Regions from separate parts of the Homo sapiens genome. Here regions 2, 3, 4, 5 and 6 are each reported to be linked to region 1. The links are microRNA targets in miRTarBase. Many come from high-throughput screens and were not tested one by one. Region 1 holds a microRNA gene; each other region holds the end of a gene's coding sequence.
Evidence for each region. The annotated mature microRNA hsa-miR-32-5p reads UAUUGCACAUUACUAAGUUGCA and lies in region 1 at 1,146-1,167, opposite strand. An mRNA with a match to its seed (bases 2 to 7 or 8) in the 3' UTR can be bound and repressed. Matches are read on the target gene's strand: a 7mer-m8 pairs with bases 2 to 8, a 7mer-A1 pairs with bases 2 to 7 and ends in A, and an 8mer does both.

Region 2: miRTarBase lists ITPRID2 as a target of hsa-miR-32-5p. Seed matches in the 3' UTR shown: 8mer at 870-877.
Region 3: the mRNA of BRMS1L is a reported target of hsa-miR-32-5p. Seed matches in the 3' UTR shown: 7mer-m8 at 1,689-1,695.
Region 4: the mRNA of DYNLT3 is a reported target of hsa-miR-32-5p. Seed matches in the 3' UTR shown: 8mer at 686-693.
Region 5: the mRNA of RAB7B is a reported target of hsa-miR-32-5p. The part of its 3' UTR that is shown has no 7-base or 8-base seed match.
Region 6: miRTarBase lists MPP7 as a target of hsa-miR-32-5p. Seed matches in the 3' UTR shown: 8mer at 1,924-1,931.

The regions. Positions count from the first base shown.
Region 1 is chr9:109,045,127-109,048,288 of GRCh38, forward strand. It overlaps MIR32 (microRNA 32), which reads right to left and starts at 1,172; the gene lies at 1,103-1,172. All of the region lies in intron 14 of TMEM245 (transmembrane protein 245), which reads right to left.
Region 2 is chr2:181,927,813-181,930,812 of GRCh38, reverse strand. ITPRID2 (ITPR interacting domain containing 2) reads right to left here. Exons shown (of 18, transcript NM_001130445.3): 17 at 2,535-2,652; 18 at 75-1,252. The coding sequence ends at 2,548. Among named protein-coding and RNA genes, the nearest start is that of ITPRID2, 38 kb to the right of the region's middle.
Region 3 is chr14:35,869,975-35,873,136 of GRCh38, reverse strand. BRMS1L (BRMS1 like transcriptional repressor) reads right to left here. Exons shown (of 10, transcript NM_032352.4): 10 at 1,174-2,777. The coding sequence ends at 2,660. Among named protein-coding and RNA genes, the nearest start is that of BRMS1L, 45 kb to the right of the region's middle.
Region 4 is chrX:37,838,159-37,841,158 of GRCh38, reverse strand. It overlaps DYNLT3 (dynein light chain Tctex-type 3), which reads left to right. Exons shown (of 5, transcript NM_006520.3): 4 at 54-131; 5 at 508-2,323. The coding sequence ends at 584. Among named protein-coding and RNA genes, the nearest start is that of DYNLT3, 7.9 kb to the left of the region's middle.
Region 5 is chr1:205,976,429-205,979,573 of GRCh38, forward strand. It overlaps RAB7B (RAB7B, member RAS oncogene family), which reads right to left. Exons shown (of 6, transcript NM_001164522.3): 6 at 312-2,500. The coding sequence ends at 2,423. It overlaps SLC26A9-AS1 (SLC26A9 and RAB7B antisense RNA 1), which reads left to right. Exons shown (of 4, transcript NR_110984.1): 4 at 1-1,667. Among named protein-coding and RNA genes, the nearest start is that of RAB7B, 25 kb to the right of the region's middle.
Region 6 is chr10:28,051,199-28,054,360 of GRCh38, forward strand. It overlaps MPP7 (MAGUK p55 scaffold protein 7), which reads right to left. Exons shown (of 17, transcript NM_001318170.2): 17 at 1-3,046. The coding sequence ends at 2,867. Among named protein-coding and RNA genes, the nearest start is that of SNORD130, 21 kb to the right of the region's middle.

The sequences.
Region 1 (3,162 bases):
GAACTACAGTCATTCTACAGTGCTGTAGAACATTAGAACTTATGCCTTCTAAGTAATTTTTGTATCCTTTAACAAATCTCTCTCTACCCACCCCTTCCCAGCCCCAACCTCCCTTGAGAGGTCACATCTTCCCTTTCTTGATTAATCTGCCCTGGAAACCCAGCTCCACAGGGTGTCATATAGCAACCTGGCTGACATTAGATTTCCAGCATGAGGGGAACGGCCGAGCTGCTGAAGGGCACAGGGGATGAGCTGCTTACGTGGAATTCTTCCATTCTCACCCTCCAAAACAGTGGTGAAACACAGAAACATACAATGACAGCATCACAATAGATCATCTGGAGGCTATGGTAGTAGTAAATATTAATTCAATATTTTCATACAGTAATACATGGTTTTGTGTCCTTGACAATGCCTAGTGATTGTGGATGCTTACTCTAATGCTAACTAAAAAAATAACAAGGGGTTGTTTCAATTACATAGGCAAATAGTAAACGTGTATTTCAAAACTAGTTCCATTATTAGCCCACTAAAATGAATTTAGCAGTTTTCGAAGCATCACAATGAGAAAGTAAAAGACACATTTTTAAGGTAATTTACCTTGGAAACTTAAGTTTATGAGATGAATCTTTCATCAGGTAGGTTAAGCATACCTTTACTGTCTTGATTATTATTTAAGAACTCCAGTTAATTTAATTTCCCCAAATATGCATAAGAGATTTCTGCTTCTCTATTCCAGTGTTGGGAGAGATTTCTTCAAATAAATGAAAATACATTTTCTTACAGCTTTACATTCTTCCTTATACATTTAAATATTGTTTATACTCTTAAATCAATGAGAATTTGTAATAAATATTTCATTTGCTCAAAGTAAAAAATGGAAACACTGATTTACTAAATGATCATTGCTGACTTTTTTTAATCCAAATACTTTTAATTCTCCAAAATTGGAAGGTACCGATGGGAAGCATGTTCACTTTCCAAATGAGAATCGCATGGCATACACACTGTCTTATCTAATTCATCAGGACACCCACCCACTGGCACTGAAAAGCTGTAATCCCAGCAAGCAAGAGCCATACCCGTGTGCATGCACTCATGTGAAAATATCACACACACTAAATTGCATTGAGGCCGTGACAACATGCAACTTAGTAATGTGCAATATCTCCACCAGAGCAAGCAGAATGGGAGCATCAGGGAAGAAGGGTGTGATGTATACATTCAGGAGACAACATGCTGCTGAAGAGAGGAAAATGGTCTGGGGATAAAGGATGCATGCCACTGACTCAAAACTTCATGAAATGAAAACCCAATTGCAAATGTATTCAACTGAGAAGAATACTTATTCAGAATCAAAATAATGAGTAAGGTTCAAAACTTCAATGAGATAGTGATCATAAAGAAACCACATACTTCAGAAGGCAAAGCTTCACGAACAGACACTATCACTGTCTGGTCATGCAATTAACCCCCAATTTCAATTCCATTTTTGACTTATTCACAGATCATATAAATGAATGTAATGATTTCCACTTAGCTGCAACATAGATGATGATTAATGACTGATGCTTATAAAAGTTGGTATCACTGATATTTGTAGGCTAAACTGCACTTTGAGGACATTACAATATTTTCATAGTCATTCATAAATTATAAATAACCACTTATTTTTCCCTCAAAATCTTTTTCCATGAAGAAACATATTGCCTCTTCAACACAAACCTTCAGGATGAAAAATCCAACAGGAGCTCTTAGAAAGAGAACTCACTACCATCTTCTCCACAGGAGAAAGCTCTTCAGAGGAATCTCTGTAAAATCTGTACATTTTAAGTCTTGAATTTGAGCCAGTAAAGAAACAGCCCTAGGAACTTAAACTGCAAAAAAAACACCTTGAATTATAGCCTTAAAATTACATAACTTGATATAGCTTTGGTTAGAAAAATGTCTCAGGCCATAACCCATTCTTTAGTCTGTACCATATTTATCAGACTCATAAAAATCTATCAATTCTGAGAACCATTAGATTATAGTTCTGGTACCAAAGGTTGTTAAAATTTTTTCTGTATTTAAAATAAGGTGATAATAAAACAAATGGTTTTTAAATGCCAGTATACTATGGAACCAAGACATAAGCTACTGTTATAATACATAATTAGTGTATGCACTCCCAAGAAGGGAAGTCGAATCTAATTTGTAAAAGACTGATTTCCTCATATCGCTGTAGATGACAGCACTCTTTGTAATCTCAAATTCTCTCCTGAGCCAAAGACCTGAATTTCTAAATGCCACCCTCTTATGTCCACAAATATAAGTCATGATCTTCCCTAACCAGCTCCTCTTGAAAGAAGGCATCATGGTGTAACAGAGTATGTGCTTTCAATCAGCTGAACCTAGGTGTGACTAACAGCTTTACTTACCACTGACTGGCAAACACAACAGCTAGGAATTAAGTTTAAAACAAAAAAGGTGGCATATTTGGTATGAAAAAAGGTGACAGACATTTAGAGGATGGTCTGCTGTAAGAAAGCAGAACAAGAGAAAATTCAAAAGCTGTGATGTGAAAATAGAAACATTTTTCTAAGAATAAGAGTCAGTAACAATGAAGATTACTTGAGGAAAATGGAAGCATCATCTTTCTTGAAGTTCTTTATGAACAAGGTAGATATTTTTCTGCAAAGCTTGGCTTAAGCCACACTGACTGGAGAATTCCTACCAGCCTTTGATATGGCTGCTACAATAAATAGCTTTACCCCACTGGGAAGATAAAAGATTAGCCTTCCTTTTTGGTAGAGCATTTGCAAAAGCTTTTCTGAGTCAGAAAGATATCACCTAGATAAACAAAAGATTATCTATTGCTAGAATTTTCATCATTTCATTTATTCAGCAAAGATGATAGTCAATGGTCATATAGGACTTAGGAGGGAAGCTATAGCTGGTACTTCCTTCGAAACAGCTTCACCCCAATTGCTGTTACACTGGATAATATACTCCCAAATCTGGAATCTTTATAGATGGCCCCTGTGTGGATACCTGAGGACACTATACAGGTGTTAAGAGCATTTTTTTTAATCCCACTTGACAGCCAATCGCGGAAACAAGGTATTGGTGAAGATCTTACCCAGGCCTTGCTAGTAGGAAAAGGGGAGAGAACTTAGCAAA
Region 2 (3,000 bases), not on the chromosome of region 1:
TTTGGACCTCATTTGTTACCTATCAAATCTAATTCAAAATCTTCATGTTGCAGTTTAAGAAACCACTAAAACACTTTAGGCAAAATAAATACTTTATTGTTTTAATATATATATATTTTAGAAATCAGCCTTTGTGTGATATTTCAAACATTTATAAGCCTTTTAGAGATTCTTTCAAAGAACACTGTTAACAACTCAACCACTTTTGATTAAAATATCACACACAAAGAAACACAATAGGAGTTGAAAAAATTATAAATGCTAGAAGAAAAATTCTAATAACATTTGGTGGTTACTTTACACATTTATTTAACACATATAAAACCAAATGGGAAACCATTTTCCTTTTTTTTCATAAAAACAAAGTTTTCACTGGTTAAAACTGAACTAAAATCATTTTATGTATGAGGAGAACAAATCTAAATTACTTCCATTTTGAAAAAACAAACACCAGCTTATTCATTTCTATTCATTCAAGTCATAGGCCCCATTATTTGGATGATACTCTATTTAGTCTAGAAGACAGAAAAAGAAACATCTCCATCTAATAAAGAAGTCTGGACAATGCAAAAAGTAAAAGTACATAGTGTTTAACATAAGGCACATTTCCAAAAGAAAAATACTACATAAGCAATGATAAAATTACATTTGTCTTGGGTAAAGCAACAAGGCTTACAGTGTAAGTACATTAAGTAGTTGTAGGTAACCTCATAAAATTCTATCCTACTGCTATTAGTAACCTCCCCAAGAATTAAGAGCAATTATATTTTTTACAACAGAACAGTTTTTCTTCTTGGAAGTGACATTAATTAACAGCAGTGGAGGGAAAAATCATTGGATGCTTCAAGCTCTGAAAAAAATGAATCAGTTATTGCACAGTAAATACCTCATAGAGGTCAGTGTTTTAAGATGTTAGTCTGAAGAAATATGTTATTTATAAGTTGGATAAGTCTGGAAGTCTTCAAGTTTTAAAATTAATTCTAATAGGGAATCAAATGAAAAATACTGACATACAAATAAATATTAGGCTTTTCAAACTGCTAGAGTTTTTGATAGTTTAGAAAAGAAATAGCAAAGTGCCTAAGTTTCTATGTACGTCTTTTTAAAATATATGGTTGAAGAAATACACATTGTACACTGTATACAGTAGCCCAGCTCAACAGCAAGTATCTTCTAAAGCACAAATAACACCTCCACCAGTGCATATCATTGATAATTCCAGTATTACACAGCTAATAGGATCCATGCCAACCTTAAAAAAGAAAAGAGAAGTCAGTTTTAAACCTCTTTCAAATACTGTTATTAAAAGCTTCTTTAAAGGAAGATGAGAATTTTATGCAAATATATATACACAGAAACATGATTATCCTGTAATCTCTATACATCTTCCTGAGAGTTAATTCTTATATCCCTGGCTTTAAAAAAAATAATTCCTATTAATTGCTTTGTGACATAATTTATTAAAATACTTTCCAATTTCCTATATCTGAAATTGTATATTATACTTTTCAAATTACATTTGTTTCTCATGTCTTATTCAATGAATATTTTTAGTTCTATTCTACTCAACTTATTCTTTCTTTTTGCATTCACCAAGAATTATTATTAATATATATTATATAAAATGAAGTTAGAGCTAAAGCAGGAGGATCGCTTGAGGCTAGGAGTTTAAGACTAGCGTGGGCAACATAGCAAGACCCCATCTCTACAAAAAAATTTTTTAATGTAATTAGAGCTACGAGATAAAATGAAAGTAATTCGTTTTACTAAGACAGACATATAAAAGAGTTTTTTGAAATAAATTATTATTAGAAATGAATCTATGGGATATGTTTCTTTAAAAGATAAAAATAATTAGGAAAGATACTTAGAAGTTGTGATTAATTCGGCCGGGCGCGGTGGCTCACGCCTGTAATCCCAGCACTTTGGGAGGCCGAGGCGGGCGGATCACGAGGTCAGGAGATCGAGACCATCCCGGCTAAAACGGTGAAACCCCGTCTCTACTAAAAAATACAAAAAATTAGCCGGGCGTAGTGGCTGGCGCCTGTAGTCCCAGCTACTTGGGAGGCTGAGGCAGGAGAATGGCGTGAACCCGGGAGGCGGAGCTTGCAGTGAGCCGAGATCCCGCCACTGCACTCCAGCCTGGGCGACAGAGCGAGACTCTGTCTCAAAAAAAAAAAAAAGGAAGTTGTGATTAATTCACAAAATCTTGTTCTTTAAAACTATACATCTGAAATACCATTATAATCAAAATAAGATTCAGGTTTGAAGGTCCAATTCCAGGATTTATTACTATAATGAAATTTCAGTAGAATGACCCAATATAAGTAATTCCTTGGAGATTTGTATTATGGGATTTGACTTACACTTCAAATAGGCTTGTGTGAAATTTTCACATTGTAAAATAACATATTACATACATTCTAAAACTCAAAATTTAACTAGAGAACCAAACCTGTATACTAACAAAACAAAGAATAAAATGCCAGTTACTATTTACATTTAGCTCAACAAAGAAACTCAGAAAAATTTACCTATAATTTCTGTTTAATGATAATCTTGCTTAGAATTAGACGCTTTACTTGAAGATACTGCTGCCAAAAGTCCACTTACAATTTCCCGTCTGATTTCCCCAACAATAGACTCTTTAATCTAGATTGGAAAAACAATAAAACAAAAATTTACCAATATGAATGGAATTCATTTTTTCCTGTTTTTGGAAAAAATACAAATAGCATTCAATTTCTTAATTTCACCTTCATGTGAATCTCCCTGCAATACAGAGAGGGAGTGGGGAATCGAGTCCATCTATCATCCAACCCAGATCAGACTCCCAAGGACTGGTCTAGAATTGTTCAGCTAACTAGATTACAAATATCACAATTCATAAGGTGAGGACATTAGAAAATGTTATTTCATAAGTTAAAAAACTTCTAGTAAATACTTTACCTCATGTCAAAAAAATAATCTGGAAGGACTTCTTAAATGTTTTTAGTATTG
Region 3 (3,162 bases), not on the chromosome of region 1:
TACTGTTCCTGAATCTTTGGAAGTTTTTCTTCTTTTTAAATAATTATTAATGAGGCATACATGGTTCTGCAACTGGTGTTCCAAGTAATGCATACATCAGAACAACTTTTACATGAAGAAGGCTGCAAAAAAGTACTGTGTCCAGCCCACCAATATGAACAGTGAAAAAGGGGACAAATCAGGAGTGTGCCATTACTATTTGCCAATAATTATTAGTTGAAGAATTGCATTAGTGATACTTAGATAGTATCTCTTTTTAAAAAATGGGAAACAGCAAGGAGGGGATGGATTGAACATGAAAAACTAGGAGCTGTGACAATAAAGGTCAAGAAATGATCCTGAGACAGAAGCTGATCATAAACACAGGAGCAGCAGCAGCCACTACATCACATTTTGGAGTTTCTAATAATTTTCCTAAATTAAACTTTATGACCAGACAACTAATGGCAAACTGCCAATAAGACAATATATTTTATAGCATTTTAGTCATAGATAAGCATATGCTTTTATGAATCTTAATATTATGGTAGAATACTACATAAGATATAAATACTAAAGTTTTGAAAATAAATGTACTAAATCATAGTTTTAAAATAAAGATTTCCTAGGCCAGGTGTGATGGCTCATGCCTATAATCCCAGCACTTTGGGAGGCCAAGGTGTGCGGATCACCTGAGGTCAGGAGTTTGAGACCAGCCTGGCCAACATGGCAAAAACCTGTCTCTACTAAAAATATACAAATTAGCCAGGTGTGATGGTGCACACCTGTAATCCCAGCTACTCAGGAGGCTGAGGCAGGAGAATCACTTGAGCCTGGGAGGCAGATGTTGCAGTGAGCCAAGATCGTGCCACTGCACTCCAGCCTGGGTGACAGAGCAAGACTCCATCTCAAAAAATAAAAATAAAAAAATAAAGATTTTCTATTTAGAATTTCATTAACTTATACAGTACCTTTTAATCAAAGTACAACACATATGCATATATTTTAAAATTAAGTATAACTTAGCTGTCTTGAACATCTAAATATACCCCAGAAAGTGCTGAGGTTACAGGTATGAGCCACTGCACCCAGCCTACTCCATATCTATTAACGTAAACCAATTCAAATCTTTCTTACAAGTGGATAGGTTATAAAAAGAACTAAATACACATAAGTAATCCAAGACACTACAAATCACACTGAAACACATCTTTTTATTATATACTAAATTTAAAAATACAAATCTTATTAAAAATGCTTATCAAACATTGTATACATAAGTACTGTCAAATACTATTGGGTTTTGACATTATGTACATTTGCTAAGGTTAATTAGAAACAGAACAACGTAATATCACTTTGCTGACACTGAATTTCAGCAGTTAAGTGTTTTAAAATTTGGCAACTATGAAGTAGTGATCTGCACAGGAAGATGTTTGGAGAGGTAAAATAATAAGAAAACAAACGGAATAATGCAGACATTTCTGCAGTAAGTGTTAATAAGTAGATTTCTTCCTCATCCTCTTAACTCATTGTAACAGAAATTAAAGTGCACAAGACCACCAGGAATACCTGATTTGGTGTACCCTAAATATACACTACAGCCGGCTGTGCTGCCATATTGAGGGTTTCAATTCTTTGTACTGTTCCTGAGGTTTTGGAAGTTAATTTTGAATGTGGCTAGCGGAAGGGAGGCCAACACTTTCTAAATTGCACCAAATGGCCTTAAAGTGTAGAAATACCAAAGAAAAAAATATTAATTTGGAAATAGATTCAAGGAAATAATCCCTGTCTACTTTGCCCTAGGAATAAAATTAGAATAAGGACACAGTTTTACCTCTGGAAAATGCTTACTAAAATCTGTTTCAAAAGACCAGACATGTACAGCAAGCACAATACTGTCAGTTATTGTTCACCACTTATATACTGCATCATAAATACCAGGTATAAATACCTGCCGCTAAAGGGTCACTAGAAATACAGGTAGAAGCATGTTATCACTTTACACTAATTTTACTCATTAGGTATAATTTGTAAAAATAGGTCACCACCCCACCATACAATCAAGAAAGAGGAAAAGAAAAGTTGCTATTCTACAAAAGTGCTCCTTTTAGCTTTCAACCCCAATAGCTTAATTTTGGGTAAAACAAGATTGTAAGGTATGGCCATCAGTTCTAAATAAGCTGATGATGCCATATATACATCCTCATATATATATATGTTTAAATTTCAGTTCTGGTTTAACACTAATGTACTAGTACAAACCATTTATAGGAAACATTCTATCGGCCTTATTTACAAACACACAATGAATGACAAAGATATGGAAAATTTTAAAAATTGCAGATAAATGTAGTCATAGTTTACTAAAGATAAGACAAATTTGCATAACTTTTTTTAAAACCAAAGAAAAATGTTTAGAAAGAAACCCCTACCATATACAGAATACCTATTGGTCATCGGACCTAAGAGGCAAATCAACGTAAGGATCGTGATAAAATTTTTATTACTGTTTCTTTTAATAACATATCAATGAGATCTATTTAGAGTACTACCTACAAATACACATTCTCTCATGATTCAGTGAGAATATTAAGTTATTGAATACATTTTTTTACTCTCATGGCACTTACATTTGGTAACACTAATAAGGTAAATTTAGATAACACTTAAATCATGATTATGAATGTTTAATTGAATATTTTCCTTTCTGTAGCTGTGAAATGTAAAGCTTAGATTTGCTTCCATCAGGCCTCTTAAACCAAACTTCATCATGGTTAATTGTTGTAATTACAGCACTAAAAAGAAAAAAAAAAGAATGAATGAATGAATTACAATGTCTCCTCAATTCACTTTAGATTATTACCTATATAAAACCAAAATAAACTGGCCTACAACAGTAGACTCAGGTATATAATTGTCATTTACCAGAATGCTGCATATCAGCAGTACATGCTGCCAAAAATATCACATTCAGCAACACAGCAGATCATCCTTCTTTTCTTAATAGAGTTCGTAAAATTTACTTTCTATTAGAACTATTAAAAGCACATTCTTCCTACTCCATCCCCACCCCACCTCTTTAAAAAAAAAAAAAAAAACTGGAGCTAAAAGCGCTATGTATATGGTATTATACTTGTAACTCATGTCAGTATCTTTCAAATGCTAATCTCTAATTCCTAA
Region 4 (3,000 bases), not on the chromosome of region 1:
GGTTCTCTTTTCCTTTGTCTGTAAGTGCCCTCATTCTGTGACTTTATTTGCAGTGACCTGTGCAGTGGTCCAGAAGAGCGCATATGGCTTTCACACAGCCAGCTCCTGTTTTTGGGATACCACATCTGATGGTAAGAGATCTTAAGCTGATTTACACAAAATCCAACTTTTAGCAAAGTCAAACTGCACTTTTTAACCAAGTACTTATTTAATTCTGATTAAATTCTGAAAAGACTATCAACAGTATTGCTTTGTACCTAGTAACAAGTATACCTTCAGACCGATATGAAATGTGAAAACTTAACAGGTTGAAGGAAATAAGATATTAAAACATGTGAAAAATGTATGTGTATATATATATATATATATGTGTGTGTGTGTGTGTGTGTGTGTGTGTGTGTGTGTGTATATGTGTGTGTGTGTGTGTGTGTGTGTATATATATATATATATTCTCTGATAATTTTTATGTTTTGCTGGTATTTCAAAATCCTTTTTTTGTGTTTCAGGAACCTGTACCGTAAGATGGGAGAACCGGACCATGAACTGTATTGTCAACGTTTTTGCCATTGCTATTGTTCTTTAACTGACTAAAAATGTTGGGCTAAAGCCATTAACTTAAGAATTTGTCAGTGTATCCTTTCCAAAAAGAGTAATAGTTGTTTACTAGTGTGCTAGATGAAAAGCGTGCAATATGCTTTAAAGCTATCAACAAAAACTGAATATTATAAGCAAGCAATATCATAGTAATTGGCAGATTAGCTCATATTCTATACAGCATCGTTTAAATAGGAAAAATTTAATGCTAGCAAAAAATAAATTTAGAAATATGGCATGACATGAAAATACAATCTTATATTTACACCAGCTTTTCACTAATATTTTGTACCTAAGGTGATGGGGAACTCCATTCAGATAATAAAATTCTCTTTCAGCTAGAGAAGTTAACAGGAATAAATATATGAACAAAAAAGCTGCAAGGATAAATGTGGAGAAAATGATGAGAATTAGCTAACATTTTTAAGTTTTTTTAAACTTTCTTCCCCTCAGTTGTACTTAATATTTAGTGGAAAGTAATAATTTTTTTAATTTTCTATCAACTAATAGTATAGTAACAACTATGATTAACTTGTTTACTTTTTCTGAGGATTAGTAAATCAATTTTTTTTAATTTCAAATTTTTGGATTTACACTTGAGGGTAAATTAAATCTGGTAAACTGAATTTCCTAGTTAAATAAAATTAGTTGCAGTATATGATGAACAGTGTATGACTCAAACAGCTGCCTTACAATTCACTCATTCCATGTGGAACAAACATTTATCAGATGCCTATTATGGGCATATGTCTCTGCTAAGCACCATAGTTGTCAATGTGCTGTGCAAATGCTAAGTTCCTTTTAGCAATTGTTCAGTTGGAAGACGTATTAATATTTGGGGAAGGAAAAGAAAGTAGTTGTTTTACAAGGGAGGAAAAAAGTGAATCTGGTTACACATATGGAAGTAAGCAAAATGAAAAGCACTTATTGCTTTCTGACAGAATTATAGATGTAATTTTAAGAGTTGCTCCTAGCAAGTTAAAAGTGCATATAAAATATGCAACTCTTAGTTAAAGGCCTTATTATCAGTCTTACCTATACAAGTAGTAAATTTTGTCATTGCTTTAGTTACAACCATCTGTAAATAACTTAAAAGACTTATTATGTGGGGTTCAAATTGAGTGGAATAAAGTATAGATTAAAAGTATACAATCCTTAGCACGTTATCTCAGGGCTTATGAAATGTAATTAAATTTATTAAGAAAATAGATGAAAAATTAGGGTACACAGCTGGCCACCAAATGCGAAGTCAATCTGCTACTTAACCCTGAAAACAAAATCAGTTTTGCATATTACCACTAACACTAATACATATAGAGAGCGGAACCATAACTCATTGAATTTTGGAGAGGAATAAGCTTAGCGTTAATATTGACAATATTAAGGCAATATTCTTGTAGGAATACTATGTGCATGTTTGATATTTTGCCAAATAACAATAATTAATAATTGTTCAATGTTTAAGAATAATATTAACAAAATAAAGGAGTTTAATGCAGTGATCTTTGTTTTTGGCACATCAAAAATTCTCAGTCATTATTCATGTTTCTTTATGCTGCTGGCTTTTGTGCCCTGGAAGATCATAATAGTGACCAAAATATACATGCAGACTTGTTTTTTATTATTGTTGTTTAAGCATAATTTAAGAAAAAAAATTTTTACCTGGTGAACTTGCTATCTGCTCTGTTTCTAGTTAAAATATAATAAATATTATCTTCCTGTGCTGTACTTTTGCTTCTGGATAATCATTTAATAGTTAGAGAAATGACATTCTGCTTGCTCTTAGAAATTCTAAATAGAAGAAATGCTGGGGGTGGTGGCTCACACCTGTGTAATCCCAGCACTTTGGGAGGCAGGTGGATCATTTGAGGTCAGGAGTTTGAGACAAGCTTGGCCAACACGGTGAGACCGCATCTCTCTTAAAAATACAAAAATTAGCCAGGCGTGGTGGCACACATCTCTAATCCCAGCTACTCAGGAGGCTGAGGCAGGAGAATTGCTTGAACCCGGGAGGCGGAGATCGCAGTGAGCCGAGATCGTGCCACTGCACTCCAACCTGGGCAACAAAACAAGATGCCGTCTCAAAAAAAAAAAAAAAGAAAAAAGAAAGCAATTCTAAATAGGATAAATGAATATGGGACCACATAGATATATTATGCATATTATGCAGAATAAATACCATTAAAATAGCAGCCCAAATCCAGTATTTACCATTACAACATAATTAATAGCTTCTATTTTATGCTTTTTATTTTATGATTTTAACACAAAATTTCATTTTCAAAAATCAGTGTAAAAATATATTCTGTAACTACTAGTTTTTAATGATTATTTTTTGCAAGGGATTTTGTCTTATTTGTCAACTTGCAATTGTGTTGTTGTTTTTAATTAAGGACTTTAAGTTT
Region 5 (3,145 bases), not on the chromosome of region 1:
GCCTCTTGCAGACTCAGAATCTTTTCCATTCTAGCTTCAGTGTGTCTGAGACTCATTGTTTGCTAAGGATTGATTCCATGAATGAGTGACCTGCCCTCAGTGGGGCCCATCCTTGATCGTAGGCTCTGTTGTTGCTGTCTTGAAACTCAATAATGTCTGAACAAGAGACCCGGATCTCCATTTTGCACCGGGTTCTGTAAATTATGTAGCCAGTCTCAGTTCACTTTTAGTTGTCTGCCCTTTAGTATCTTTTTCATATCGAACCACGTAGATGTATTTTTAAAAATATAAAATCTAAGTCGCACAAAAGATAAAAACAAAGAAGGACACATTTATTATTTGTTGTGCACCTTTAGAAATGGTCCACAGGTCCACTGCAGTGCACAAGCTGCTGCATGCACACCGCACGTGACAATCCAGTCTGCCTGACTCCCAGGACAGCCTGTGTGATATGCAAAATGCCATTCCCATGAGGGCGCATCATGTTTCCCAGGAGCTCTGAAGGACACAGATAGAGCTTGTGCTCTAGGCTGCCCCCCTGTTCCCGTGCTGGCTCCATGCTGGTGTCCAGAATGAGCCAGTTCACACTCCAGTGCCACGTGGGGGGAGAAGTGGCTCCCAAACTCCCCTGCTGACCTCCCCCCGGCCCCTAGGTGTACCTTCCAAGTCAGATGACAGTCATAGGCTAACATCCCCAGCTTTGCCTGGAACTCAGGAAAGGATACTTACGGGTAGACAGAAAGATTCTGCAGTGGGCATGGACTTGGCCATTGAAGACCCTGAGAGGACATCTTGTCCACCCTCTCCAGGCTAGGCCCTGTCTGTGCTGCCTGGAGCCAGAAGAAAAAGATTCCAGCCTTGGAATCTGCAGGGAGGGAGACTCCTTGCAGTGAGCTTTCTTGCATTTCATTCTAGTATTTGCCACAGATGCTGATTTCTTGCCTGAGTCATATATATTGAAGTTTTTGCTCATTTCTTACTAGGCTTAAGAAATTGGAATTCTCTGCCTTACAAATCCCAAAGGGCTAAACATGCCTCCAAGCCCATGAACAAGCTTTGAGCATCTGAAGGACAAAACCCCAGCTCCTAAAACCTTCATGAGCATCCACTTTCTGCTCAGCCTGGAAGAGAAGGAGCACTGCTGCCCTCTGGTGGTCAGGCAGCAGAGCATCTAGGAGCCACCCAAGGGAGCTGGGTCCCCTTTGCTTTGTCTTTGGGACAGCAGCTTTGAGTATTAGGTCAATGGATGTCCTTTCACTGTTCCTGGAACATGGCAAGCTTGTTTTTGCCTCAGGGCTTTGGGTCTTGATGCTCCCTCTCCCTGGAATGTTCTTTCTCCAGCTCTCAGGTGACAGCTGCTTTCTCATTCTCTAGCCCTCAGACCAAATGCCACCTCCTCAGGGAAGCCCTCCTGGACCACTTCATCTAAAATAGCAACTCATCCCACCCCCTGTCACTCTATCCCATTACCCTGTTTCCCTTTGTTTATAGCACTTACCTGCTATTTGGAAATATCTGTCTAGAGTCTGCGTCTCTCCCTCACCAGATGTCGGCTCCAGGAGGGCAGAGTCCCTGTGTTTTGTTTGTCACTGGACTTCAATGCATCGTACATAGTAGATACGCAAAAATAAACTTGTCAAAGAAGTAAATAAATGCATATTGACAACAGCTACTGGATTTAAGCACAGCTTCTGGTCCTCAAAACCACACTGTGATACAGGGGGCAAGGCACATCTCACCCCCACAGGACAGATAAACAAATTGAGACTCAGAGATTTATGTGAGTTGCCTGAGCACCCAGCAAGGAGGAATGAGCCATGGTCCCTTGTGGCTTCTCCTGTGCTCCCTCAGTCTTCTACCCTGGAGGGAGCAGAGGGGGTCTCAGGCACGACAGCTTCTGCCAGGAGCTGAGGCGGGCCCAGCATGTGGGGTCCAGACCTTTACTCCTTAGTCTGCTCGTTGAAGGAGGCTGAGCTGTGCCATTGTCCAAAGCTTTGCTTGTGGCTGAGGGGTGTGAGGTGGGAGCGGGTGAGGAAGGTCTGTCCACAGGAGGATGTAACCAGACTCCAATCAGTGGCCGGTCTGCGGAGATGTGTGTTCTGGAGCGGGAGTGTTTGAGGGGTGGATGGGTGGGGAAAGCTGGAGCCACTGCGGAAACGGTGACTTCTGCAGGACCAGGGTTTGGCTCTGACATTCCGGGCTTCATCCAGACGCTCTCACTATACTCAGCCTGAGCCAGGGGCTGCCCTCTGACTCTGGGCCCAGCACCAGGGTCAAGGGCTCTGCCGCAGAGCTTAGGCCCCCTGCACTGTGCTTGGGCAGGCAGTGGGGCTGGAGGGGGATGGTCACCTGTTCTCAAGCCTGGGGTGACCAGGCTCGGGGCAGGCTCTGTTTCTGGGCTTCCAGAGCAGGCGTCTGGAGGTCAGCAGCATCTGCTCCTTGACTGGTCTGGCGAGAGCTTGATGGATTCTGTGAGGTGATTTTCTAAGATGCTCTGGTACTGGGGAAGGAAAGAGAGGCCGGCATTCATGTCCTGAGATACAGAGTGCACCGCCCGCCCTTCATTTCTTAGTGGGCCTCAGAGCCTGGGCTCTTGTTTCCTCCCCATTATACTTCTGGGAAACTGAGGCCCAGACAGGGAAGCCACTGGTGTTCCCCACCCTCCTTCTTCCCTGTGTCTCCCCTCCAGCCTCTTCCCAGGAGCCCAGAGCAGGTCAGTGTCTGAATTAGCGGCCCAAGTCTCCTGACCTCCAGCCATGTCCTATAACTTTCCATTCTCCAGAGGGGACAGCTGAGGTGTCATTTGGGCTTAGGCAGAGAGGTGACGGCCACTCCTCATTTCTCCTGGAGACCTCTTCCTGCAAATATCCCAATACCCCCAACCTCCTTTTCATCCTGTCCACCTCTCAGCCTCCCCTACTCATGCCTAGAAAAGCCCAGTCGGTCCTCTGTCCTGGCCACATCCAGGCAGCCCTCCCTAAAATGGACTCAATGTTTCTCCCGGGCCCTTTTGCTTCTCCAGTCTCTCTTGTCCCAACAAGGGTCCAGAGGAAGCCCCTTCTCGGTCTGCCAAGCTTCTGCCTTTCCAGCTGGCTCCACTTCTCACCAAGAGCCTGCCCCCCCTCCCCAGTTCAGGGGTTGGGGT
Region 6 (3,162 bases), not on the chromosome of region 1:
ATCAAAGATTTTTCATTACATTTATTTATAAATCCTTCCTAGTCAAAATAAAATAATAAAAATCTGTATCTTTAGAAAGAACATAGTTTTGTAAGTCTGAGAAGGTTATGTTTGTCAGTTTCAAATTATTACAGTTTAGATACATTCAATCATTACACAATACCAGGAAGGTCAGCCTTAAAGATACCAAGAACTTCCATATTGGTCAGTAAAATAAGGGTAAAAAATTAAATTTTACTTTCACCTTTTTATGTTTGATTGACTACAGTCAATAATAGGAGTACAGAATTTACTTTTTGGTCTTGATTTTTAAATATATGAATTTTAAAAAGTGAACGTTCCTCTTCTCTTACATAGTGGCTCCAACTTAGGGAGCTGGCTTCTGGAGGGAGGAGTGCTATTCTCCTTGCTGGAGAAGGAGGCTGGGGGAAGAAAGTACAGAATTCAGGGCCTTTTTGCTGCCGTTGTCAATGAACTCTCGGAGTTGGCCCTGCCTTATTAAATTTTAATCAATTATCTTTCTAAGCATCAAGATGGCCATGTAAACACTGTTTTTAAGACCACGTCTACCGGCTGGGCACGGTGGATCATGCCTGTAATCCCAGCACTTTGGGAGGCCAAGGCAGGAGGATTGCTTGAGCCCAGGAGTTCAAGACCAGCCTGAGCAACATGGCAAGACCCTGTCTCAAAAAAAAAAAAAAAAGTATACTACCTGATTTCTAAAATTACCAAAGTGCCCCCTTTTCCCCCCATTATTTAAAAAATATTGTTCTAGCTCTGCGCTTAAGGTCTGGACCTTTCTTTTTTAAAATGTTATATTTTTATAACATCTTATTATTACCACCACCAAAAAAGGACTCAGTTTCTCCCACTTTACACTATATCTCTGTCCCCAAAGTAAATAACTGAAGCAATTATCTGCAATTTTTTTAAAATGTGGGTATTTCAGGGTAAAGAATTTGGACTGCCTAAATTACTCAGGTGATTGCCTGAATTATTACATATGTCCCATCATTCTTTGTACAAGAAGTCTTGATTTATAGAAAATTTCAGACAATGTTCAAAGAAGGAAATATGCTACCCAAACAATCTACTTAAGACTTCAGGTTGGCAACCCTCCCTCTTTCATTTTTTAAAAACAAAATTTTTTGCTATTTAATTAATACACTTAGAACTCACTGTCTGGATCACGTTGTTATATAATACTTAGTCTGATTATCTATTTTGGTGTGACTATGTGTCAAGGCCATTGGAGTGGTTTTTGTCTCTGCTTCTAATATGAACTTGACAAGTATGAAGGAAAACCAGTGAATAATGCTATCAAATGTGCAGTGCACAGATCGCACACTTGGATCTATCTTTGTAAAGCTCAAATATTTACATGGAATGTTGACCATGATTTATAAAACTACTCTTTTAAATTAGGACATCTTGACATACAATCAGTTTATTTTATGAATAGCCCCGTTTGATATTTAAAAAAATATGCCTTTAAAATATTTCATAAATATATAGAATTTTACTACATTCTATTTTTTTTCACATGACATTTAAACTCTCTTTACAAATCAACAAAAAAATAACATTTTTTTTTCCACTTTGAAAGTCACAGATGCAATGATTTTCGACGGGCAGGGCTTCACTGCATGCAAGAACGGCAGGATATGCTCTCTTATAGAACGGATAGACATTTCTAGCATTTTGAATTATATAATTCACTTGCTGAAAATCAGTAGTATCAAAGAAAAGTGAGAGAACCCATCTAAATATTTACAATATAAGAGTCTTTCCTAAACTTCTTTAACAATGGCAAGGTTAGGATGGTGTCTGGACAGTGTTAACAAGCATTTTGATGACAAAGAAATAACATCACATGAAAAGTTTTCTAAAATAAATCTTAGAGCAATTTAAAGAGGGGTGATCTATTGCACATAGATGAAAAATAATCTTTAATTGTATCAGTAATATGTAAAACAGGTTTTACATGTTTTAGAATAGAAATCCTTCTTCTAATTTATTGGAAAAATCCAAAACCAGCTAAAATAACATTTTGGGTGACTTCATAAATTGTCTTCTGAGGAATTACAAATAAAAATATCCTTTGTAATCATTTCTTGCCACAAGGCTACCATTCTTACTTATATTAATCCCAAAGGAAAGGCTTTTCGTTACATATATAATAACTGTTAAAAGTCTACTTTCCCTTATTAAATGTTGTTGAGTCACTGACAGGTACTCAAAAGGACTTCTCAAGCTATATTATGAAGGCCATTCACTCAAGGTAAAATTTCAGTTACTCCTTTAAGAATTATTTTAAAATGCACACACTGTGAACGTATTGCGAATATGTAAGAAAGTCTACACTTTTTGAATAGTAAGAGGACACCTTACTGCCTGCCCGGCTAAATCTGTGATGATCCACCCAGAAACAGCAGAGCTCACCTGTCTGTCTGGAGCTGCTCATGGCTGCTGAATTGATACCTTCAACAGCTAACATTCAAACTCGACAGCAGCAGCCACACCTGAGACCAGCAGAAGCGCTGAACTCCCATACATACTAAGCCTCTAGCTAAGTCTCTCTGAAAATTTCAGCCTCATCTTGGAGATAGAGCGGTATTGAAGACAACGAGAAGGTTTGAGGTTTTGCTTAGAATACAGTACTGTGCATATTTTGATTTCGGATCTTATACTAACACATGGCGTTTGAAATAAGGCTGTAAAAAGATACAAACAAAACCAGCATTCAACTTGAACCAAGATTGTACATCTATGACAGTGATATAGATTTAAAAACCCTACTACCAAAACTGTAATTGATTTCATCATGCACTCTATAGAAAAAGACAATTATGGAAATTTCTCTTAGTTATGAATGTAACCAGCTCACTGGCACCCAATGGGTCTCTGTCTCTAATTTGTCAAAAGTTGTTTTGAGCTCATTGAATGCCACAGTGAGGTCATCATTTATTATAATTTTGTCAAAAAGATGACCATATTGACTTTCCATTATCTGTGCAGATTTAATCATTTCTTGAAAATCTTCTTCCTACAAAAGGAAGTATTAAAAAAATAATTGGTTAACCAGGCCATTACCTCACTTCATATCAATGCAAACATTCTACAATTGGTTTACCTAATGCTGTTCTGTGTTCAGTCTTTCCC